4 linked regions of the Homo sapiens genome follow. The protein of the gene in region 2 purifies or fractionates together with the protein of the main gene of each other region. This does not show direct contact. Each region holds a gene or a part of one and is shown on either strand. Other genes may lie near its edges.

What was found.
Region 1: the proteins of ZNF428 (region 2) and POGZ purify together in Homo sapiens (affinity purification with mass spectrometry; 4 studies listed by BioGRID and IntAct, with this or other methods). This does not show direct contact.
Region 3: the proteins of ZNF428 (region 2) and PIP4K2B purify together in Homo sapiens (co-immunoprecipitation; 3 studies listed by BioGRID and IntAct, with this or other methods). This does not show direct contact.
Region 4: the proteins of ZNF428 (region 2) and CHAMP1 purify together in Homo sapiens (co-immunoprecipitation; 3 studies listed by BioGRID and IntAct, with this or other methods). This does not show direct contact.

The regions. Positions count from the first base shown.
Region 1 is NC_000001.11:151,456,466-151,463,699, forward strand, and holds the start of POGZ (pogo transposable element with ZNF domain), read right to left. Parts: upstream 3,030-7,234; 5' UTR 2,687-3,029; exon of another isoform or gene 2,595-2,686; coding exon of another isoform or gene 2,575-2,594; intron 1-2,574. UniProt on the Homo sapiens protein: Plays a role in mitotic cell cycle progression and is involved in kinetochore assembly and mitotic sister chromatid cohesion.
Region 2 is NC_000019.10:43,609,629-43,616,663, forward strand, and holds part of ZNF428 (zinc finger protein 428), read right to left. Parts: intron 4,871-7,035; exon of another isoform or gene 4,807-4,870; 5' UTR 4,677-4,806; coding exon 4,601-4,676; coding exon of another isoform or gene 2,494-4,600; exon of another isoform or gene 2,460-2,493; intron 1-2,459. Other genes in the region: SRRM5 (serine/arginine repetitive matrix protein 5), read left to right, coding at 2,494-4,641.
Region 3 is NC_000017.11:38,768,525-38,775,559, reverse strand, and holds part of PIP4K2B (phosphatidylinositol 5-phosphate 4-kinase type-2 beta), read left to right. Parts: intron 1-4,287; coding exon 4,288-4,546; intron 4,547-5,020; coding exon 5,021-5,124; intron 5,125-5,788; coding exon 5,789-5,869; 3' UTR 5,870-7,035. UniProt on the Homo sapiens protein: Participates in the biosynthesis of phosphatidylinositol 4,5-bisphosphate. Preferentially utilizes GTP, rather than ATP, for PI(5)P phosphorylation and its activity reflects changes in direct proportion to the physiological GTP concentration.
Region 4 is NC_000013.11:114,324,496-114,327,850, forward strand, and holds the end of CHAMP1 (chromosome alignment-maintaining phosphoprotein 1), read left to right. Parts: coding exon 1-1,786; 3' UTR 1,787-2,827; downstream 2,828-3,355. UniProt on the Homo sapiens protein: Required for proper alignment of chromosomes at metaphase and their accurate segregation during mitosis. Involved in the maintenance of spindle microtubules attachment to the kinetochore during sister chromatid biorientation.

The sequences.
Region 1 (7,234 bases), on a different chromosome or scaffold from region 2:
ATAGTCTGCTAGTCGTTCTTTCAAGTAAAAATGCTACTCCATGAAATAAGCCATTCATTCACAACCCAATCTCACAAATGCTTTTCCTTCATGACAACAATCACACCTCCCTAGGCAGCATAAATGCTTTATCCATGTTTATTTAATCACAAATTCTTAAAAATTAAAAAGACATGTAGTCAAAAGCTAAGACTTAATAATAATAGGCCGGGCACGGTGGCTCATGCCTGTAATCCCAGCACTTTGGGACGCCGAGGCAGGTGGATCGCCTGAGGTCCGGAGTTCGAGACCAGCCTGGCCAACATGGCGAAACACTGTCTCTACTAAAAATACAACCAGGGAGGAAGAGATTGCAGTGAGCCGAGATAGTGCCACTGCACTCCACCCTGGGCGACAGAGCAAAACTCCGCCTCAAAAAAATAAAAATAGAATAATAAATTTTACTGCTTCAAGGGCATTCTCAAGTAGTTTGGTGCCCCTGACTTGCTTTGTGCTAAGGTACCGCCAGTAGTTTTACCCAGCCTTGCTTTTGAACCATCAGTGTATCAGTGAAAACAATAAATAGCATCTTACTATTATTTTGAAAATAGTTATGACCTTGAGGCTACCCTGAAAGGGTAAGAGGAGATCCCCATGGGTCATCTGTCCACACTTTGAGAACTGCTTTCCTACATTATACCACTAGTTCAAGATGGGAGTGGAAACTCTAACTAAATCAGGTTCGTCCCAAGAGTCCATTCTGTTACCTCCTTTAGTTTGAGATACACCACCAACACAGCTCTGGAAAAGGGAAGGAAATCAACGGCACAAGGTGTCACTTGTTTCAACATCTTGAACACTTTTATGTTAGACCAGTAATTCTCAATGTAGTGGTTACATTAATCAGTCTCAGCCCCAGGACTGCTCATTTGAAAATGTAAAGATGACAACCCCCCTCTGCTCCATTCAAATAAATTTGGGGGATGAGGCCCCCCAAATTGTACGTTTAACCACCTTCAAGTTACTTTTTATGCACCCCGAAGTTGAGAACGATTGTGCTAACAGTTCGAATTCAGAGTTCAAGCTCTCAGACCCTGAGCAATAGTGTCTCAAAATTAATCGTTTGCCAACGAGCAGCCCTCCCTGCCCCCTCCGTTTCCCTTTCCTCTAGTTGGGTAAATGCCTACAGAAGTAAAACCCGGCCGGGCGCGGTGGCTGACGCCTGTAATCCCAGCACTTTGGGAGGCCAAGGCGGGCGGATCACCTGAGGTCAGGCGTTCAAGACCAGCCTGGCCAACATGGTGAAACCTCGTCCCTACTAAAAATACAAAAATTAGCCGGGCGTGGTAGCACATGCCTGTAATCCCAGCTACTAGGAAGGCTGAGGCAGGAGAATCACTGGAACCCGGCAGGCGGAGGTTGCAGTGAGCAGAGATCGTGCCACTGCACACCAGCCTGGGCGACAAGAGTGAAACTTCGTCTCAAAAAAAAAAAAAAAAGTAAAACCCCATTTCTGTGGAGTTTTGAGCGGCGGTAAGAGGTGTCTACGGGCTTGGAAGGACGGGCTACACCGCTTGCATCAAGACGGCGGCTGCTGTGAGATAGTCCAACTGCATCTTAGTTTCCATTTCGAAAATGAGACTGGCCACTAAATGACTCTAAGGACTCATCAGCACTACCTTTTTCTGAACTAAGAATGTCTAAGACAAGTGCTACTAGCAGTTTGAGAGAATCCCACATCTGGAGAGGAAGGAAATAAGAACAACACGCAGAAAGACGGAAAACAAATAGATCAATGACAGTACTCCTTTGCAAAAGGTGCCAAGAATCTAAATAAAATAGTCCCCGGGATAAACATGGCGCCCACCGCGGCAGGACATAATCACCAGAAAATAAAGATTCCCCGCCTCATTCCATTTTATAAATCACGGCGCCATCCCAAAAGAAATTTGGGGACCGAGGGAGGAGACTTCGTAAACTAGCTGCAGTGCACTAAGGCTTAGGATGTACTATTAGACCAAGCAGAGATTACATAACACAAGGGATCGGCTCAGCAATCACTCATTTTCCTCCTCCCGCTCAAAACGAGCGCCCCACTCCTTCTCGGAGCGGGAATGGGGCGGGGAGGGCCGCGCACCCCCACCCCCAGGGGCCGCTCCGCCGCCGCCCGCCCCTCCGCCGCACGGCCTCGCCCCCTCGCCGGCCCCTCCCGCCGCGCCCCGCCGTCTCGCCACCGCCCGCGCCCCCGCCCCCGCCCCTTCCCCAGCGGGCCACCGCCCGCGCCCGCGCCGCCCACTCCTCCGAGACGCCTCGCGCCGAGCGTGCGTGTGGACGTCGGGCTGTGTGCGGGGCCGTGGGGCGCGAGTGCGCGCGCGCGCGCCGCGGCGGGCGCCGGGGGGCGGGGGCGGCCGGCCAGCCGGCAGGCAGGGACCTCCGCCGCCGGCCCTTCGCGCGGCTCCCGCGGCCCGGGGCGCACGCACACACACTCGCGCTCGCGCGCCGCACCCCGCGGCCGCCCCTGCCGCGGGCCGCGCCGCCACTCGCGGTGGGCGGGGGCGCGCACCGCCGGCCCCCCGCCCCCACCCCCGCGCGTACCGGCCCCATCCCCCTCTCATTGTCTCGCCTCTGAACGCCTCGCCGAGCGAAAAGATAACGGAACCCCCGGGAGCAGGGGGTGGGGAGAGAGAAGGCTCGCTCGCTCACTCACCTCCTGTGGTCGTCGCCGCCGGTAGTCTGACCCGAGGAAGGCGCCGTCGCCTTAAAGGGACCTTACACCCGGCGCCAGAAGGGGGTGGGAGCAGGGGGAGGGGACGGGGGCTTGGGGGGAGACGAAGAAGAGGTAACCGTTGAAAGCTCGTCTCCCCAAGGGTGAAAGGAAGCCTCCCTCGGGTTCGAGTGATTCGGGGTGGATTTTTTTCCCGAGGGGGGCGGGGGGGCCCCGAGGGAGGGGGGTGGGGGGGCCAAGGAATGCGGCTCCGTGTACGGGAGCTGGCGCGGGGGAGAGAGACGCCGACTCCCCCCACCGACCCTCTCGCCCCGCGGAGGGATACGGCTCGTCACTTCCGCCCTCCCCTTTTTCACGGCCTCCCAATTGGTCGGAGCGCGCTGCACGTCATGGGCTCATCCAAACCCCTGCCCGGGCTTCTTTTCTAGTCAAGTTTGGCTGGGCCTGCAAATAAATAAATAAAGGAAAACATTTTTTGTAATGAAAAAAGAATAATTAGCTTCAGAAGCTATATCTAAATTTTGGTGAGAAAAATGAGACTTCCAAAGAAAATATTCCCCAATTTACTTGCCAAGAGTTTCCAAGGAAGTGTTGGGAGGCTCCCCCACTTTCCACTCAAGGCTTAGACCCAGTCAAGAGGGAGACTTCATGACACAGGCCAGGTGGTGAGGCCCAGTGGCACCAACAACTGTCATTGGAACAAAGAACAAAATGGCACTCACTCTTTCTCAAGAGACACTCGGCCAAGTAACCTTGTGGCTGCGGCCTTGTTTAAGTGAAGAACTTTTAAAAGCCATTTTGATCCTCAAGCCCTTCTGGATCCTGGAAAGAAGTGGCACACGATTGTTAAAGCGATTATTGTGATGGAAACTGCTTTGCTCCCATTGTGAGTAGATTCAGCAGAGATCCCCAGTTCCAAGAAACCACACACACTCCACATCCTTATGCTTTTTGCTCCAATCAAGGCTGAGATGGGTTGGCTCAAAGAAATTGGTTAGTCCACTCAAACGACCATCCACCTGTTTATTCTTCCCCAGACAAAAACTACCTCTTTTCAGGTAGCTAAGAAATTTTGTCCTTTATTGCCTTCTGAGATTATAAAAATGTAATATTTTCCTTGAATATTTGAAAATGTTTGCTATTTAAGCAATACACAAATATTTGCTTCAAACCAAATGTGAAATCAAGGTACTTGGTGCAGAAAGGGGAAATCCAGAACTATGTTTATTTGTGCTCTTTATATACACACTCCATTCAAACCACCAGACTGAAAATAGGCAGTGGAAGTAGGCATTCCAAATTGTATGCACCTGCCCGTGTGAGTGTGCACATGTGCATACACATACACACACTGCCACCACCCAGTTTCATTCCATTTCATACCAAAACCATGTGAGTGATTTCCACTAGTGTAGGATGCTTAGGAAGGACTTCATTATTTGAATGAGAAGAATCACTAAATCCTTCTGAAAATACTTCTGAAGACTTTCCAGACCTGATCTGGAGAAGCCCATATTAGGATTATGGGATCAATCACCAAAAGACTACATGAAACTCAAATCCTATTTTATACTGTCGTGTAATTAGTATAATTCATTATATATGTTATATTTACATTATGTATATTACGTTATTAACCTTTGAAAAATTCCAACATATTTCCCCATGCCCTGTCAATTTATTCTCCCAGCCAATGAGATCTAGCGCAGACTATGCCATATACCGTTGACCAGTAACTGTTAGCATGCTTTATTGAAAATGGATCATGCATCCATTCATTCATTCAATGAATATTTATTGGGGGCTGGGCATGGTGGCTAACACCTGTAATCCCAACACTTTGGAAGGCCAAGGGAGGAGGATCACAGCAGTCTGAGGGCAGCCTGGGCAACTTAGCAACATCCCATCTCTACAAAAAAAAATTTTTTTTTTTTAAACAGAGTCTCGCTCTCTCCCCCAGGCTGGAGTGAAGTGGCGCGATCTCGGCTCACTGCAACCTCCGCCTGCTGGGTGCAATTCTCCTGCCTCAGCCTCCTGAGTAGCTGGGACTACAGGCGTGCGCCACGATGCCTGGCTAATTTTTTCTGTTTTTAGTAGAGACGGGGTTTCACCAAGCAGGCTGGTCTCGAACTCCTGACCTCGTGATCTGCCCGCCTCCGCCTCCCAAAGCGCTGGGATTACAGGCGTGAGCCACCGTGCCTGGCCCCAAAAAATTTTTTTCATTAGCTGGTTGTGGTATTCCTAGATACTTGGAAGACTTGGGAGGATCACTTGAGGCCAGGAGTTTGAGACTGCAGTGAGCTATGATGACACTACTTGCACTCTAGCCTGGGAGGGACAGAGCAAGATCCTGTCTCAAAAAAAAAAAAAAAATTATTGAGCACATGTACTAGGCACTGTTTTAGGTGCTGGGAATACAGCAGCAACAACAACAACAAATACCTGAATCTGTGGGATTTATACTCTAGAAGGAAAGAGACATAAAATATACACATAAACAAATTGTTCTATTGTCTATTGTTAAATAACAAATGACCCCGAACTTAGTGGCTTAAAACAACAATTTCATTACCTCTCATGGTTCTGGGAGGTAATTAGGCTCAGCTAAACAGTTCTCACTTGGGAGTCTCGTATGCAGTGGCTAGGGCTGAAGTAATCTCAAAAGCTTCCTTACATGTCTGGAAGTTGAGGTTGACTGTTGGCTTGGACCGCAGCTGGGGTTGTTGGCAGACCATTTACAAGTGGCTTCTCCATGTAGCCTGGGCTTCCTCATATCATAGTGGCTGAGTTCCAAGACTGAGTGCCCCAAAAGGACCAGACAGAGATCGTGACCTAGTCTCAGAGGTCATATAGTGTTACTTCCATTACAGTTACAGGATGGAGAGCATAGATCCCCATCTCTCAACGGGAATAGTGGAAATGTCACATTGTAAGAAAGTGTGCGGAAAGGGAAATCTTGTGGCCATCTTGGAAAATGCAATCTGATATACATTATGTAAATAAATATGGATTATATGAAATGGTGATAGGTGCTATGAAGGGTAAAGGGCAGGATAGGGGAATTAGGAGTGTGGTGCAGACATGGGGGTGGAGAATTTGCTATTTTATGTGGGGTGATTGGAGAAGTCCTTGTTAAGGTGACATTTGGGCAAAGACCTGAAGAAAGTGAAGCAAAGTTTAGGTTTTACCTGTAGTGAAAATGAAGCTGCTGGAGGATCATAAAGCAAGTAGTGACACGGCCTGACTCACGTTTTTAAAGGATCACTGTGGCTGCTTGTGAAGAATAACTAATAGAGGCAAGGGCAGATGCAGGGAGACCAGATAGAAGGCTATTGCAATAATCCAGGTGAGAGTTGATGGTAGCTTGGACCAGGATGGGAGTTGTGAAGCTGCTGCTTCAGGTGATTGAGTTCTGTGGTGTGTTACTTACTCCTCTCTATTTTTCTGTCATTTAGTTTGTGCCCTGGGAGACAGTTTTGACCCATAATGCCCAATAAAATGAGTGATGGTGCTATGCCTGCCACCAAGAATACAGAAAGTCTATCATGCTAAATGTAAAAGTGGGAGTTTTGCAGGATCTGGAGGCACCTTTGAGGAAATGGGTGAGGAAACAGAGGGTAAAGATCAACAGGCAATTAGGGAATGGAGTGTCTTTTGACGTTGTAAAAGGTATCCTGGCCAGGTGTGGTGGCTCATGCCTGTAATCCCAGCACTTTGGGAGGCCGAGGTGGGTGGATTACAAGATCAGGAGTTTGAGACCAGCCTGGCCAACATGGTGAAACCCCATCTCTACTAAAAATACAAAAATTAGCCAGGCGTGGTGGCACATGCCTGTAGTCCTAGCTACTCAGGAGGCTGAGGCAGGAGAATCGCTTGAACCCGGGAGGTGGAGGTTGCAGTGAGCCGAGATCACACCACATCACTCCAGCCTGGGTGACAGAGTGAGACTCCATCTCAAAGAAAAAAAAAAAAAAAGGAAATGATGAGCAAAGACATTTTATACCTTCAGAAGATTTCAAGGAAACTCTGCCACCTTACATTACAACACTGGTGCAGCACTTCAAAAGAGACTATACAGTTAACACTGCTATTTCCAGAAACGTATTCCTTGTGCTAAAGAGAGAATGCTCATATTAATTTGGACAGTGTTGGAACATTTTGCTTCTTCAGCTAAAACACAGGTTTCCAGAGTGAAGTAACAGAACTGATAGCTTTGGTCTCTCTTTTGGACCATCTGGATAATGGTTTGAACCATCTTGATGATGATGGGAAACCCAAGTAGTAGAACAAATAACCTGAATCAGATCCTTAGAAATCAACTCGTATGTGCCTCTGTAACATACTGGGGAGGAATCTGAAAGCCAATCCAGTCTGATATGTTGAAGAAATTTGATCCTAATAGTGGTACTCCTAAAAATTATTCCAGTCTTCAGTAGCCAACTTAGAAACTTTTTCTAAGAAAGAAAGTCAAAGGTTAATGGATGTCCCAAGCTGAGCTTTTCAGTTACATAGCTGGAGAGTGTTTCTTTT
Region 2 (7,035 bases):
CTACTCAGGACTCTGAGGCAGGAGAATTGCTCGAACCCGGGAGGCGGAGGTTGCGATGAGCCAATATTGAACCACTGCACTCCAGCCTGGGTGACAGAGCAAGACTCCGTTCCCAAAAAAAAAAAAGAAAAGGGGAAAAATTTATAGTTGATATACGGAAAAGGGCGACATCAGCTGCCATTATGGGGGCGCACACACAGAGTAATGGTTGGGGATGGGGTCCCTGTGACCACGGTGTGGGAAGTACCAGCTTCTTCGGCCTTGGTGGTAGGAGCCTGCCAAAAGCCTCACCTTGTATCCATCCCAGCCCCATTCCTCAGTTTCTCCCAGAACCCAGAGGATCCTGCTACTGCACCCTGTGCTCCGCCCTTGCTCCTGTCATCACAGTGGCCACAGGCTCTTCATACCAGGCTCCTCACCTTCCAACACCCCAGGCCCATACCTGCCTCAGGGTCTTTGCCACCCTTTCTGCCGATGTCACTCTCCATTCCATGTCTCTTCTCAAGTGTCACCTTCTCAGTGACGCCCTGGCCACTCCCCAGCACTCCCTACGCCCCTTACTCTGCTTGATTTTTCTCCATCTTCTTTTGAGATAGAGTCTCGCTCTGTCATCCAGGCTGGAGTGCAGTGGCGTGATCTCAGCTCACTGGAAACTCCGCCTCCTGGGTTCAGGCAATTCTTCTGCCTCAGCCTCTCAAGTAACTGGGATTACAGGGGCGCACCAGCATGCCCAGGTAATTTTTGTATTTTTAGTAGAGACGGGGTTTCACCTTGTTGGCCAGGCTGGTCTCAAACTCCTGACCTCAAGTGATCCACTCATCTCAGCCTCCCAAAGTGCTGGGATTATAGGTATGAGCCACCGCAGCCGGCTCATTTTTCTCCATCTTCTGACTCACTGCATTCAACATTTACTTGTGTGTTTGTTTACTGCCTGTCCCCGAGAGCTGGGACTTTGTCTGGTTCACTGCTGTGGCCCCAGCATCTAAAACACTTCCTTTGTGCAAAGAAAGTACTTATGACATATTTATGGCATGGATATCTCTGCATGGAATTTGACAAACCTTTTCTGAGGCTTCACACACACTGTTCCTCCCTCTGGTGGGAATGTCCTGCCCTAGTTTTTCCCACCATCCTTTAGGACCCAGTGGGAGGCCTTCCTCTTTGGTGAGGCCGTCCCAGACCTCCTCATCCCAGGCAGCCAGTCACTTTTTTTACCACCCTCCTGCTGGGTCCCCAGCATCACCAGCCCAGAACAGGTTATAACTCTTTCCTTCTGAACATCCGTCCCTGCAGCTCTCTCCTACTAGTTCCTGCCATTTAACAATCGTTTCCTGAGGCCTTGGTATGGGCTGTTCCCCACTCTATCCACCTGGTGACCCCCTACTCATCCTTCAAGACCCAGCACAAACTCTGTCCTCTGTGAAGCCACCACCCTGAAGCCCCAGGCTCCCAGCCAGGTCTCTCTCCAGCTTCCCCTGCCCCAGCACCTCCTCCTGTTACTGCCCTAGAAGCTGACTGCAGTCAGCTGCCCCCCAGGGTATCTCCCTTATCTGACTGGGAACTCCTCAAGGGCAGGTATGATCTTGGGGTCCGCAGCAGAGGACGTGTGGGTGAGTGGATGATAGTGGCCCCAAGACCCTGATCTCCCTCCCCAAAGCCTTGGCCTCTGCTCCTCGCCCACCTGGTTGACCCGTTCATTTTTTTTTTTTTCGAGAGAGAGTCTCGCTGTCACCCAGGCTGGCGTGCAATGGCGTGATCTTGGCTCACTGCAACCTCCGCCTCCAAGGTTCAAGCGATCCTCCCACCTCAGCCTCCCAAGTAGCTGGGATTACAAGCGTGTGCTATCACACCTGGCTAATTTTTATATTTTTGGTAGAGATGGGGTTTCACCTTGTTGGTTAGGCTGGTCTTGAACTCCTGACCTCAGGTGATCTGCCTGCCTCAGCCTCCCAAAGTGCTGGGATTACAGGTGTGAGCCACCGCGCCCAGCCTGACCCTTTCTTTCTCTACTGGCAAAACTCCTGCTCCTTTTTAAAGCCAAGCTCATGTCACCTCCTCTGTGAAGTCCTCGCTGACTCCCCAAGCGGTCAGTGTCTCTCTCGTATGGGCTCCCCGGCCCCTGCACTGCTCTCCATCACACCCTGACCACTCTGGGCAGTGGCCCCCCTCCCCACCCACTGACTATGGGCTCCTTGAAGGCAGGGCCTGGGTCTGCCCCATCTCTGTGTCCCCAGCAATGCTGGGCATGAGTCAGCCTCAGAAGACATCTGCTGAATGGCTGCAAACCAGAGGAAATATCTCCAGCCTCAGGCTGGGACCCCTCCCCTCTCTCCTCCCACCTCTGACTTCATACCACTCACCCTCCAGAGTCTTCAATGCCCACTATTACTTCACACAGTTGGCCTGTGACAGGCAATCAGGTCATCGTCCACGGCTACCAGGTGTTTCATGTCTACTGTGACTTCCAGGACCACAAGCCCTTTTGCGCCCACCATGTCTTCACCTAAGAGATCTTCAAAGCCCAGTATGTCTCTGGCACCCAGTGGATCCTCCATGCCCACTGCGGATCCCAAGCCTCCTGCCTCCTTGAAGTCCACCAAATCAGCAACACCCAACAGATCCTTAGTGCCCACCAAACCAGCGACATCCCGTAACTCAGTCATGAGCCCAAGCAGTTCCAAGTCCACCAAATCGACCAGTACAAAAAGAGCCCCTTCTAACCGGCCCAGCAGCAGGTCCCGAGTCCGCAGCAAAGCAAGAACACCCAGCAGGGTGAGCACCGACACCAGGACCAGCAAAGCCAGCAAGGCCAGCGACGTGAGATGCCACCAGCGGAGGGGCACACACAGCCGGGGTAGGACACCTGGCAGAAGGGGAAGCCGCAGCTCCAAGAGGTCACCCAGCAGGGCCAGCACTCCTGGCAGGATAAGAACTCATGGTGCCAGACCAGGCATGGCCAGCAGGGTGAGAACTCCCACTTCACAGCAAAAAGGGAGCCGGGGAAAGAGTTACGGCCGGCCTAGAACCAGCAACAGGGAAAGGAGTGACAGCCAGCCTAGAAATCTGAGCAAGAAGAGTTACCGCCCACCAGGAGGCTCAGGTATAGGGAGGAGTTCCGAGCTGGCTGTAACTCCCAGTACAGCCAAGTGTCAAACCCCGACTGGAATTCCCTCCAAGGAGAAGAGTGACAACCCATCTCCATCCTCATCAAGGAAGGTGAAGAGCTACGGTCAGATGATCATCCCCAGTAGGGAAAAGAGTTACAGCCCCACTGAAATGTCCAGCAGGGTCAAGAGTTATAACCAGGCCAGCACCCGCAGCAGGCCGCAAAGTCACAGCCAATCTAGAAGCCCCAGAAGGTCAAGAAGTGGCAGTCAGAAGAGGACGCACAGCAGAGTGAGAAGTCACAGTTGGAAGAGAAACCATAGCAGGGCAAGAAGTCGCACCCGGAAGGGAATTCTGAGCCAGATGGGAAGACACAGCCAGTCTAGAAGCCACAGCAAGGGGAAAAGTCAAAACCAATCTAGAACCCCCAGAAGAGGAAGAAGTCACAACTGGTCTAGAAACCCCAGCAAGGAAAGAAGTCATAGCCATTCCAGAAGCTCCAGCAAAGAGAGAGATCACAGGGGATCTAGCAGCCCCAGGAAGGAGAGTGGTCGCAGTCAATCAGGAAGCCCCAACAAGCAGAGAGATCACAGCCGATCTAGAAGTCCCAACAAGGCGAGAGATCGCAGCCGATCTAGAAGTCCCTACAAGGCGAGAGATCGCAGCCGATCTAGAAGTCCCAACAAGGCGAGAGATTGCAGCCGATCTAGAAGTCCCTACAAGGCGAGAGATCGCAGCCGATCTAGAAGTCCCAACAAGGCAAGAGATCATAGCCGATCTAGAAGTCCCAACAAGGCGAGAGATCGCAGCCGATCTAGAAGCCCCAGCAAGGAAAGAGATCACAGCCAACTTGGAAGCCCCAGCAAAGAGAGAGATCACAGACGATCTAGAAGCCCCAGCAAGGAGAGACAGTGCAGACAATCTAGAAGCTCCAGCAAAGAGAGAGATCACAGACGATCTAGAAGCCCCAGCAAGGAGAGACAGCGCAGACAATCTAGAAGCCCCAACAAGGAGAGAGATCGCAGCCAATCTAGAAGCCCCAGCGAGGAGAGAGAGCACAGACAATCCAGAAGCCCCAGCAAAGAGAGAGATCGCAGACGATGGAGAAGCCCCAGCAAGGAGAGAGAGCGCAGACAATCTAGAAGCTCCAGCGAGGAGAGAGATCACAGCCGATCTAGAAGCCCCAATAAGCAGAGTGGTTACAGTCGACCTAGAGCCTCCAGCAAGGAGAAAGCTCATAGCCGATCTAGAACCCCCAGCAAAGAAGGAAATCATAGCCAATCTAGAACCTCTAGCAAGGAGAGCGACCCCAGTCAATCTACAGTCCCCAGAAGTCCCGACTGGAAGAGATCCCCTACTAGGACAAGCAGTCTCAGTCAGAATAGAACCCCTAGCAAGACAAGCAGCCACTCCCCATCAACATTTCCCAGTGGGGGCCAAACCCTAAGCCAGGATGACAGTCAAGCCGACGCCACCACCTCTAAGGCCACCTTACCTGGGGAAAGGTCTTCATCATCTTCTTCCAAGCTGGCGTAGCCCCCAGTCTCAGCTGGCTCACGGGTCTCTGTCATGACCGGGGGAGGGGACAGGAGACAGGAGCAGAGCAGCAGCTGAGCAGCGTCCCTCCCCGGCCAGCTCTCCACAGCCACACCTCCGGCCACAAGTTCTCTAATACAGGATGTTGGCAGGTAGAGAGGGATGCTGGATAGGGGGAAAGGAAAGACCTGTGATGATTCAATAAATTTTTACATAGCACCCATCCCCACCAAGCCCAACTGTGTGCTCACTGCTGGCATGGGGCACAGAGGACCCCAGCTCTGTCCCTGACTGTCTACAGGGTCTTGACTGCAAGCCCTGCCCCTCTCTAGGTCTTTTTTTTTTTTGAGACAGAGTCTCTCTCTGTTGCCCAGGCTGGAGTGCAGTGGTGTGATCTCAGCTCACTGCAACCTCCACCTCCCAGGCTCAAGCAATTCTCCTACCTCAGCTTCCCGAGTAGCTGGAACTACAAGTGTGCGTCCTCACGCCCGGCTAATTTTGTATTTTTAGTAGAGATGGGGCTTCACCATGTTGGCCAGGCTGGGCTCGAACTCCTGACCTCAGGTGATCCACATGCCTCAACCTCGCAAAGTGCTGGGATTATAGGCATGAGCCACCGCACCCGTCCCCCTCTCTAGGTCTTAATTTCCGCATGTGGGCAACAAGGCTGCCTTCTGGTTCTTATTCAGTGGGGTAGGGAGAGGTGACACTCCAAATATTCAACAGTGGGGACTGGTGTGGGCACCAATCAGAACTGAGAGTGGAGCGGGACGGATACCAGGCCTTAACCCTTTAGTTGCTGGACCATGGGGAGGTCTGGGGTTGGGGAAGTGTTATGGGGAAAAAAAACCCTCAAACTGTGTTTTTCCTCTACTCTCACACTATCACAACAATCATCAACACAGAATTCTGTGACCAAATGTGTGGGGCTTTTTCCCCACACACTACACAGCAGACAACAGCTAGGTGTCCCCTCCGATTCCATTCCAACGCTGTCCCCACACCCAGCTAATTTTTGTATTTTTGGAAGAGACAGGGTTTCACCATGTTGCCCAGAGCTCAAGCAATCTGCCCACTTCAGCCCTCCAAAGTGCTGGGATTACAGGCGTGAGCCACCACACCCGACTTTTTTAAAAAAATAAAAATAAGGCCGGGCGCAGTGACCCATGCCTGTAATCCCAGCACTTTGGGAGGCCGAGGTGGGCAGATCACCTGAGCTCAGGAGTTTGACACCAGCCTAGGCAACATGGCAAACTTGTCTCTAAAAAAAAAAAAAAAATTACAAAAGTTAGCCGGTGTGGTGGCATGTGCTTATAGTCCCAGCTACCTGAGAGGCTGAGGCAGGAGGATAAATTGAGCCTGGAAGGTCAAGGCTGCAGTGAGCCGTGACCTTGCCACTGCACTCAAGCCTGGATGACCCATCTTACAAAAAAAAAATTTTTGCTGGAGCTGCTCACAGAACTCAAGGAAATGCTTACTTAGATTTACTGGTTTATTATAGAGGATATTGCAAAGAACAAAGATGAAGAGATGTGTAGGGCAAGGTATAAGGGAAGGGGCAGGGAGCTTCACGCCCTCCCTGGGGTGCTACCCTACAGGAACCCTCAGGTGGTTAGCTATGCGGAAGCTCTCCAAACCCAGTCCTCTTGGGTTTTTACGGAGGCTTTAAGACAGCAGCATTGGGCATGGACTTCTCTGAAAAGTGTCTTAAGACCAACAATCAAGAAGGTGGGGAAGATTAGAGTCTTGCCCTGGGGCAGGAAATGGAGGGCAGGAGGAGGTCAGAGAGATTCTGTTTCTTCAGACCTGCCCCAGGCCTAAGGTACACAACATTATAACAAGAGACTGTAACAAAGGCTGTAGGAGTTACCAGCCAGGAACTGTGGATGAAAACCAATATATTTATATATATAATACCACAAGGGGGGTCCAAAGTGGCAGTTAGGGACAGGGAGTACTTGTGTAGCAGTGACACACCAACCCATCTGGAAGTATTTTAATATTTAAACAATTGGTATGGCTATACTAGTTTGTGATTATCAGCCTTAGTTCTGTATCAATTGGCAAGATAGTGTCTAGGTTTGCCACACTCTAGCTGTGTAGCACCAAGCAAAGAACTTAACTTCTCTAGCCTGTTTCCTTCTCTGGAAGAAAGGGGCTTCCAGGCCTTAACTCACGTACTCCCCATAACTAGACTGGGAATTATCTCCTTTGTACAGATGAGGAAACAGACACAGAGGTGATAAGTGAGTAGCCCAAGGTCACCATCTGGTAAGTGGATGAACTAGGATTGGAAGCCAGACCTTTCATAAAATGATTTCTCAGCTCAAAAGGTTTTTCTGAAGATTCAGTAGGCTCACTGATAGAAATTGCTGGTGTGTGGCTGGTATTCCA
Region 3 (7,035 bases), on a different chromosome or scaffold from region 2:
TAAAGCTGAATAAGGCTGAGCATGGTGGCTAACACCTGTAATCCCAGCAGCTCAGGAGGCTGAGGCAGAAGGACTGCTTGAGGCCAGAAGTTGGAGACCTGGGCAATTTACTGAGATCCTGTCTCTACAAAAAATTAAAAACTAGCTGGGTGTGGTGACATGTGCCTGTAGTCCTAGCTATTCAGGAGGCTGGGTGGGAGGATCCCTTGTGCCTAGGAGTTCACGGTTGTGGTGAGCTATGATCATGCCACTGTGCATCAGCCTGAACTAGAGGGTAAGACCCCATCTCTTTAAAAAACAAAACAAAAGCTAGGCGCGGTGGCTCACGCTTGTAATCCCAGCACTTTGGGAGGCCAAGGCAGGCGGATCACGAGGTCAGGAGATCGAGACCATCCTGGCTAACACGGTGAAACCCCGTCTCTACTAAAAATGCAAAAACAAAATTAGCCAGGTGTGGTGGTGGGCGCCTGTAGTCCCAGCTACTCGGGAGGCTGAGGCAGGAGAATGGCATGAACCCGGGAGACGGAGCTTGCAGGGAGCCGAGATCGTGCCACTGCACTCCAGCCTGGGCGACAGAACGAGACCTCATCTCAAAAACACACACACACACACACACACAAAAACTGATTAATATTCCATTGTATGGATGTATTACATTTTGTTTATTCATCAGTTAATGGACACTTGTTATATCAGTTGGGGTTCTCCAGAGAAACAAAACCTATAGGATGTTTTGTAAATCTCTTTATACCAAGATATTTATTTTTTATTTTATTTATTTATTTTTTTTGAGACAGAGTCTTGCTCTGTCACCCAGGCTGGAGTACAGTGGCGCGATCTTGGCTCACTGCAAGCTCCGCCTCCCGGGTTCACGCCATTCTCCTGCCTCAGCCTCCCGAGTAGCTGGGACTACAGGCGCCCACCACCATGCCCAGCTAGTTTTTTTTGTATTTTTAGTAGAGATGGGGTTTCACCATGTTAGCCAGGATGGTCTTGATCTCCTGACCTCATGATCTGCCTGCCTCGGCCTCCCAAAGTGCTGGGATTACAGGTGTGAGCCACCACGCCCGGCCCTAAGAGATTTATTTTAAGGAATTGTTTCATGGGATTATGGATACCAACGAGATCTGCAGTCAGCAAGCCGGAGGCCCAGGAGAGCTGGTGGTGTGGTTTTATTCTACAGGCCATCAGGCCACCAGGCAGAAGGAGTTCCCTCTTCCTCACCGGAGGGTCACCCTTTTTCTTCTCTTCAGGCCTTCTGCTGATTGGATGATGCCCATCCACACTGGGGAGGGCCATCTGCTTTACTCAGTCCACCAGTTCAATGCTCATTTCACCCAGAAACCCTCACAGACACACCCAGAATAATGCTTGACCAAGTGTCTGGGCACTCAGGCCCAGTCCAGCTGGCATATACAATTAGCCATCACACTTAGGTTGCTTCCACCTTGTAGCTGTTGGGAATAATGCTACTGTGAACATGGGTGTCATAAACTTCGTTTTGCTAGGAAGCGTTTCCTTAGTCACCCCCAACTATGTTCTTTCCTTATTCTGCCTTTCATCATCTGACATTATTTGTCCTGAGTCTTTGTCCTTCTCCCTTTTCTACCCTCTCCCCCTACTGTGGTTCTGAGAAGAATTTAATGCAGTTTACTCAGTGCATTTGTTTTCAATGCATGTTGCTTTATAAATGTTCTCAGGTGGGTGGAGGGCATGGTGCATGGACCTTCTTTTTCCTGGGACCCTAGCCCCTTCTCCCTGGGCCTTGAGAAGGCTTTGTCTGGAAGTGCTCAGAGTGGCATCCCTCCCTCCCTTCCTCTTCCAAGGAGATCCTGCTGGGCTCCCATCTTTAGGGCTCCTTGTCCTTAGTTGTGTTCTGGGCTCGTGCATAGAGCTGCTCTGCTTCCATGATGATTCTCCTCCTAGTTCTCTGTTAGGACCTAACATGGTGGTCAGTCTAACAGTCTCCTAGTGACCACTGTATGATGGTGACTGCACTCTTGCCTCATTATTAGCTAAACTGGAATGCTAGCTGGCCATTTCCATCCTGTATCATTCCATACTTTGTCTTGAAATCCTAGATAAAAGACTTGAACCACCACCCTGCTCACAGCACCCATTATACAGATGAGAAAACTAAGGCTTGGCAAGGGGAGTCACATGATGCTAGGGGAGGACTTTCCCCCAGCACCACACAGCCTCTTTTGACCTTCAGGGAATGGGTTGAGAATATTGGTTGGTTCTGGCTGCCATTCTTGTATGGTTTTGTGTTCCCTTTTCCTTTTTTTTCTATTTTTACCTGGGCTGAAAAGTCGATGACATAGTTTTTTCAGACTTTGTCTCTGAGGCCAGTTAGAAGTATATTTTACCTTGCAACCCAATGGATACACACAACTGAAACACTGTCTACCCTTATTTTCTGTCATGTATTCTGATATTTTCTATTCTATTTTATTATACAGTAGTCCCCCCTTATCAGCAGGGGACATGTTCCAAGATCCCCAGTGGACGCCTGAAGCCACAGATAGTACTGAACCCTGTATATACTATGCGTGAATTTTTTTTCCTTCTTCACAATTTCACGGATAGAAGATTTGTTCTTACAGGAGATCTTAGCAACCTCAGCATGCAATTTATTTTCTTTGTAAGTCAAGAGCTTTCACCTTTTCACTTAAAGCTGGCCAGGTGCAGTGGCTCACACCTGTAATCCCAGCACTTTTGGGAGGCTGAGGCAGGTGGATCACTTGAGGTCAGGAGCTCGAGACCAGCCTGGCCAACATGATGAAACTGTCTCTACTAAAAATACAAAAATTAGCTGAGTGTGGTGGTGCATGCCTGAAGTCCCAGCTACTTGGGAGGCTGAGACAGGAGAATCACTTGAACCTGGGAGGTGGAGGTTGCAGTGAGCCGAGATTGCACCAGTGCACTCTAGCCTGGTGACAGAGCAAGACTCTGTCTCAAAAAAAGAAAGCACTTTATGGCTTCTCTTTGGCATATCTGAATTGCCAACATCACTACTCTTGCTCTGTGGAGTCATAATGAAGTCAAATATGGGTTACTTGAATACAAGCACTGTGATACAACTATAGTGAACTGATAACCAAGACAGCTACGGACAGCTACTGAAAGACTAATGGGACGTTAGTGCATACAGTGTGGATATACTGCACAAAGGGATAATCTGCATCCTGGGCAGCACTGAATGGGACATAGCAAGATTTTATCATGCTACTCGGAATGGTACACTATTTAAAAACTTATGAATTATTTCTGGAATTTTCCATTTAATATTTTTGGACTGTAGTTGACCACAGGTAACTGAAACCATTGTGGATAAGGGTGGACTACTGCATTTAATTTAAAGAAATCCTAGTTCCAGCCCACTACATTGGGTTTAGGACTCATAATGGGTTGAAATTTTGATCTGAAATATATTGTTGTGTCATATCCATCGCTCCATCCTCTTCCATAGTATATCATTTCATTATTTCTTTCCTCAAACTTGGCCATGGCCTCTTTTTTTAAAACAAGAGACAGGGTCTCACTCTGTTCCCCAGGCTTGAGTGCAATAGTGCCGTCATAGCTTACTGCAGCCTCAAATTCCTGGGCTCACGCGATCCTCCCACTTGAGCCTCCCAAGTAGGTAGGACTACAGGTGTGCACTGCCACGCCCAGCCAATTTTTAAATTTTTTTGTAGAGATGGGGTCTCATCACGTTGCTGAGGCTGGTCTCAAACTCCTGGCCTCAAGTGATCCTCCTTAATTGGCCTCCCAAAGTTCTGGGATTACAGGCATGAGCCACCGTGCCCAGCCACCATGGCCTCTCTTGATCCCAAACCGTCATGGGCTGTTCCCTCTTCCTGCAGTGCTCGTTCTATCTTTAACCTGCAGTACTTGCCTCACTGACTCCTCTTCATCCTTGGCCTCAACTCCTTTCTTCAGGGAGGGTCTTGCTCACCCCTCACTGTAAACTCCCACAGCTCCTTGCTTTTTTTTTTTTTTTTTTTTTTTTTGAGACCATCTCCCTCTGTTACCCAGCTAGAGTGCAGTGGTGTGATCACAGCTCACTGCAGCCTCGACCTCCTGCCTTTCCCCTGCTGAATGACTGTCTTCCCCATTAGAGAGAGCTCGCGAGGGCGGGTGCTCTGATGCCTTACTCTCTGTTGAATTTCAAAACTGTTTGTAGAATTGAGTTGAAAGGAATGCCTTTCCCCCCTTTCTGGATGTCACTGGGATGTCCTGTGTAACCTCTTCTTCCTTCCATCTTTCCATCCTTGCCCTTCCTAGTTCTTGGCACAGCTGAAGATCATGGACTACAGCCTGCTGGTGGGCATCCACGACGTGGACCGGGCAGAGCAGGAGGAGATGGAGGTGGAGGAGCGGGCAGAGGACGAGGAGTGTGAGAATGATGGGGTGGGTGGCAACCTACTCTGCTCCTATGGCACACCTCCGGACAGCCCTGGCAACCTCCTCAGCTTTCCTCGGTTCTTTGGTCCTGGGGAATTCGACCCCTCTGTTGACGTCTATGCCATGAAAAGCCATGAAAGTAAGTCAGAGCCTGCGCCTGCTCTGCACAGCCCTGCCCTCATCCTACCCCCTCAGCTCATTGTTTAGATCCTTCTAGGGGCATCTGGACCTCCACCTCATTCATTGCTGCCTTTGACCTCTTTCTGCCTCCAGATTCCCATCCAGGGTCACCACCTGAACCTGGGGCTCCTCCTCTGCCAGGCTTTCCTATACTTCCCTGCTTGTCCTGGCTGACTGAAGAGTGGTTCTGCTCTGGTTCATGAGATGAACCAAACTTTATTCATACTGTCCTGTCAGCCCCACAGAGTGACTGTGAAGATCCAATAAGATAAGAGCTATGACAGCTGGAAAGGACTCCACTGGTCCTTTTCTCAGCCCCAACATGATAAGGATGGAGCTGAGCCTTGTGTCTGGGGGTTGTAGCAGTGCCCAGCTGCTGTCTGCCCTTCTCCTGCCCCCTCTTCCTTCTTCCCTGCTCTCCTTGTCCCTCCAGGTTCCCCCAAGAAGGAGGTGTATTTCATGGCCATCATTGATATCCTCACGCCATACGATACAAAGAAGAAAGCTGCACATGCTGCCAAAACGGTGAAACACGGGGTGAGTCCTCTCCATCTTCATCCAGGGCCCAGCTGGGTCGGTGCATCTGTGCTTACCCTCAGACCCCAGGGAGGGCAGTCTCAGGCCTCCTGCTCCAAGGAACACACTCCTGTCTCCTTCTTCCCAGGAGAGCAGACTGGAAGAGCAGCCTGCCTGCCTTGCCATGTTCCCTGCCTTCACCCACCTGCTCCCTGCCAGGCTGGGCCCAATTTGTTTATCCCCCAGTTCTCCAGCCCTCGGGGCCAAGCCTGCCAGTGTCTTTCCCCAGGGCCTGCTGGGCCTGTTGTGCATCTTGTTGAAGGGCGAGTAATAGCTTTGTTTCCATGCCCATACTGCTCCCCACAGGCCTGTTTCCCTGTGGGCCTGAAGCCCTGTTCTCCATGTAGTGGCCCCCACAGAGATCCAGAGCCGCGTTGCCACCTCCCCACTGCCTTTCTTCTACTTCGGTGCAGGCCTGGGGTTATAAATCACAGGAGTGGGGCCAGGACAGTTCAGGACTTGTATGCCACTTCCTGAGGTGGTCTGCTCAGTCTTGGTGGGGTTGGGGGTGGTATTCAGCTCTGATACTGAGTAAGAGGCTTCTGAATACCCTGGCTCCCCCCATGTGCAGCCTCCTGATTGGGGCACAGGAACTCAACCTGAATCAGCCTCTTGTGTATTACAGGCAGGGGCCGAGATCTCGACTGTGAACCCTGAGCAGTACTCCAAACGCTTCAACGAGTTTATGTCCAACATCCTGACGTAGTTCTCTTCTACCTTCAGCCAGAGCCAGAGAGCTGGATATGGGGTCGGGGATCGGGAGTTAGGGAGAAGGGTGTATTTGGGCTAGATGGGAGGGTGGGAGCAGAGTCGGGTTTGGGAGGGCTTTAGCAATGAGACTGCAGCCTGTGACACCGAAAGAGACTTTAGCTGAAGAGGAGGGGGATGTGCTGTGTGTGCACCTGCTCACAGGATGTAACCCCACCTTCTGCTTACCCTTGATTTTTTCTCCCCATTTGACACCCAGGTTAAAAAGGGGTTCCCTTTTTGGTACCTTGTAACCTTTTAAGATACCTTGGGGCTAGAGATGACTTCGTGGGTTTATTTGGGTTTTGTTTCTGAAATTTCATTGCTCCAGGTTTGCTATTTATAATCATATTTCATCAGCCTACCCACCCTCCCCATCTTTGCTGAGCTCTCAGTTCCCTTCAATTAAAGAGATACCCGGTAGACCCAGCACAAGGGTCCTTCCAGAACCAAGTGCTATGGATGCCAGATTGGAGAGGTCAGACACCTCGCCCTGCTGCATTTGCTCTTGTCTGGATTAACTTTGTAATTTATGGAGTATTGTGCACAACTTCCTCCACCTTTCCCTTGGATTCAAGTGAAAACTGTTGCATTATTCCTCCATCCTGTCTGGAATACACCAGGTCAACACCAGAGATCTCAGATCAGAATCAGAGATCTCAGAGGGGAATAAGTTCATCCTCATGGGATGGTGAGGGGCAGGAAAGCGGCTGGGCTCTTGGACACCTGGTTCTCAGAGAACCCTGTGATGATCACCCAAGCCCCAGGCTGTCTTAGCCCCTGGAGTTCAGAAGTCCTCTCTGTAAAGCCTGCCTCCCACTAGGTCAAGAGGAACTAGAGTACCTTTGGATTTATCAGGACCCTCATGTTTAAATGGTTATTTCCCTTTGGGAAAACTTCAGAAACTGATGTATCAAATGAGGCCCTGTGCCCTCGATCTATTTCCTTCTTCCTTCTGACCTCCTCCCAGGCACTCTTACTTCTAGCCGAACTCTTAGCTCTGGGCAGATCTCCAAGCGCCTGGAGTGCTTTTTAGCAGAGACACCTCGTTAAGCTCCGGGATGACCTTGTAGGAGATCTGTCTCCCTGTGCCTGGAGAGTTACAGCCAGCAAGGTGCCCCCATC
Region 4 (3,355 bases), on a different chromosome or scaffold from region 2:
AAAGGCTACTCTTAGTAATCCCAAACCCCAGAAGCAGTCTCATTTCCCGGAAACATTGGGGCCACCTTCAGCCTCATCTCCAGAGTCACCAGTTCTAGCTGCTTCCCCAGAACCTTGGGGACCATCCCCAGCTGCATCTCCAGAATCTCGGAAGTCAGCCCGGACTACCTCCCCTGAGCCAAGGAAGCCATCCCCTTCAGAGTCTCCTGAACCTTGGAAGCCGTTCCCTGCTGTCTCCCCAGAGCCTAGGAGACCAGCCCCCGCTGTGTCACCAGGCTCTTGGAAACCAGGGCCACCTGGGTCCCCTAGGCCTTGGAAATCCAATCCTTCAGCATCATCAGGACCTTGGAAGCCAGCTAAACCTGCTCCATCTGTGTCTCCTGGACCTTGGAAACCAATTCCTTCTGTATCTCCTGGACCTTGGAAACCAACTCCATCTGTGTCTTCTGCATCCTGGAAATCTTCATCAGTCTCACCCAGCTCCTGGAAGTCTCCCCCTGCATCTCCTGAGTCATGGAAGTCTGGCCCACCAGAACTCCGAAAGACAGCTCCCACGTTGTCTCCTGAACATTGGAAGGCAGTTCCCCCAGTGTCTCCAGAGCTTCGCAAACCCGGCCCACCACTATCCCCAGAGATCCGTAGTCCAGCAGGATCTCCAGAGCTCAGAAAACCCTCAGGGTCACCAGATCTTTGGAAGCTTTCTCCTGATCAGCGGAAAACTTCTCCTGCTTCACTTGATTTCCCTGAGTCCCAGAAAAGTTCCCGTGGTGGTTCTCCTGATCTCTGGAAGTCTTCCTTTTTTATTGAGCCTCAGAAACCTGTCTTCCCTGAGACCCGAAAACCAGGTCCTTCTGGGCCATCTGAGTCCCCCAAAGCAGCCTCAGATATCTGGAAGCCTGTTCTCTCTATCGATACTGAGCCTAGAAAACCTGCCCTGTTTCCCGAGCCTGCCAAAACAGCCCCTCCTGCTTCTCCAGAAGCACGCAAACGTGCCCTTTTTCCAGAGCCCCGGAAGCATGCCCTTTTCCCTGAACTCCCCAAATCTGCTCTATTCTCAGAATCACAGAAGGCTGTTGAGCTTGGTGATGAACTACAAATAGATGCCATAGATGATCAAAAATGTGATATTTTGGTTCAGGAAGAACTTCTAGCTTCACCTAAGAAACTCTTAGAAGATACTTTATTTCCTTCCTCAAAGAAGCTCAAGAAAGACAACCAAGAGAGCTCAGACGCTGAGCTTAGTAGTAGTGAGTACATAAAAACAGATTTGGATGCGATGGATATTAAGGGCCAGGAATCAAGCAGTGATCAAGAGCAGGTTGATGTGGAATCCATTGATTTTAGCAAAGAGAACAAAATGGACATGACTAGTCCAGAGCAGTCTAGAAATGTGCTACAGTTTACTGAAGAAAAAGAAGCTTTTATCTCTGAAGAGGAGATTGCAAAATACATGAAGCGTGGAAAAGGAAAGTATTATTGCAAAATTTGTTGCTGTCGTGCTATGAAAAAAGGTGCTGTTTTGCATCATTTGGTTAATAAGCATAATGTTCATAGCCCTTACAAATGCACAATCTGTGGAAAGGCTTTTCTTTTGGAATCTCTCCTTAAAAATCATGTAGCAGCCCATGGGCAAAGTTTACTTAAATGTCCACGTTGTAATTTTGAATCAAATTTCCCAAGAGGTTTTAAGAAACATTTAACTCATTGTCAAAGCCGGCATAATGAAGAGGCAAATAAAAAGCTAATGGAAGCTCTTGAACCGCCACTGGAGGAGCAGCAAATTTGATAACACAGTGTGAATATTTGTTCTACAAAGGTGTTTGTTGGAACCATTCTTTGTAAGTATAGCTTATCAGATAGCATAGTTGGATCAGTAGATGACATGTATGGTGTACCGTGTTTCACTGTCTCAGTTGTGTTACTAAGAATGAGCATTTGATCATTTTTTTCTGGTCTCTGTCTATGTGACTATCTTGTAAGTCAATAAATTTCTGTATAGTCCAGATGGATTAAACTTCTCATTTCTTTTAAATATGTATGAATAATAATACAAGGAAGTAGGCATTCCATTTAATAATCAAGAGCAAGTTGTACTCAAAGCATTCAGTTAAAGTGTATCTGTGTGTGGAACTAATTTCAGACAATAGAAAATATTAGTTGAAATGTTTAAGAATTAGGCATGAAAAATAAATTTGAGAAATTTTGTTTCCTTACATGTATTTTTAAATCATAAGAGTTATTTTCTATCTGATGTAAAATTAGTTTATAAATCTTAATCAGCTTCTAGATGTTTATTAGCTTTTATGTCATGAAATGTTGGAGTCTCAGGGTTGCTGATTTTCTGCTAATGGGAAAAATTGACTAAGTCTTTAAAATAGTTTGCAGCCTTCTCCCACAGGAGACAAGTGAAAGATAAGTGTGATTTTAGATCTTTCTTGTCCATAGTTGTTTTCAGTGGAGTCTTCCATTCTGTATCTTACCCTAAGATCTGGTTCTTCCCTCCCCATCCCCACCCCCCACCCACCGCCTGCCAGCTCACACTAATAGATGATTCTTAATTGCCAAATGTGTTAGAGTTTGTATATCCTACTCCTGGGCCTTACATGTCGCCTGTTGGGGCTTAAGACCAGGTTGATAAGTAGGAACTGAAAGTCTTCCAGATTCACAGTAGAAAATTTTATAGACATTTCTGTTAAAGAAATATATCGATTTTATGTTTTTCAATTATGTTACTGTAAATACCTTGTACCTGTTCATGGATTATTTTATTCTAAAATATTTTGTCAAATGTGTATCAACCAAATTAAAAAGAAAGGTTTTCATGTCAGCAACATCTTCATGTGTGTTTTCTTTTGTGTAGTTTTCATTGTATGATATACAGATCCATTATTTCCATGTTTTCAACATAGTTTTCTTATCTGGAGCAGCATTTTCTTAGCTGTGTTTTCTCCAAGTTCTGTGGTCAAGTAAGTTAGGGGAATGCGTGTATAGGGAGGACTCTGTGTCAAAAACCTCATCCTTTCATATGAAAGGTTTTTTAATTCCAGTGGTTGCCTATCCTGCCTGCCTCTAAACAGTGTGAGGCATTTAATCTCAAAGCATTCTGATGTGTAGCCAGGATTGAGATGCTGTACTGGGTTTATTTTAGCTATTCCCAGACATTTTTTTAACAAGGAACAGTTTTGTCCTAGTTCCCCACCCGCTGGCTTCCCTATTAATATGCCCGTTGGGATAGCTTAACAATATTTAGTAATATGGTTTGGCTCTGTGTCCACACTCAAATCTCTCTCTTTTTATTTTTGTTTTTTATTTTGAGACCGATCCTTGCTGTGTCACCCAGGTTGCTGTGCCGTGG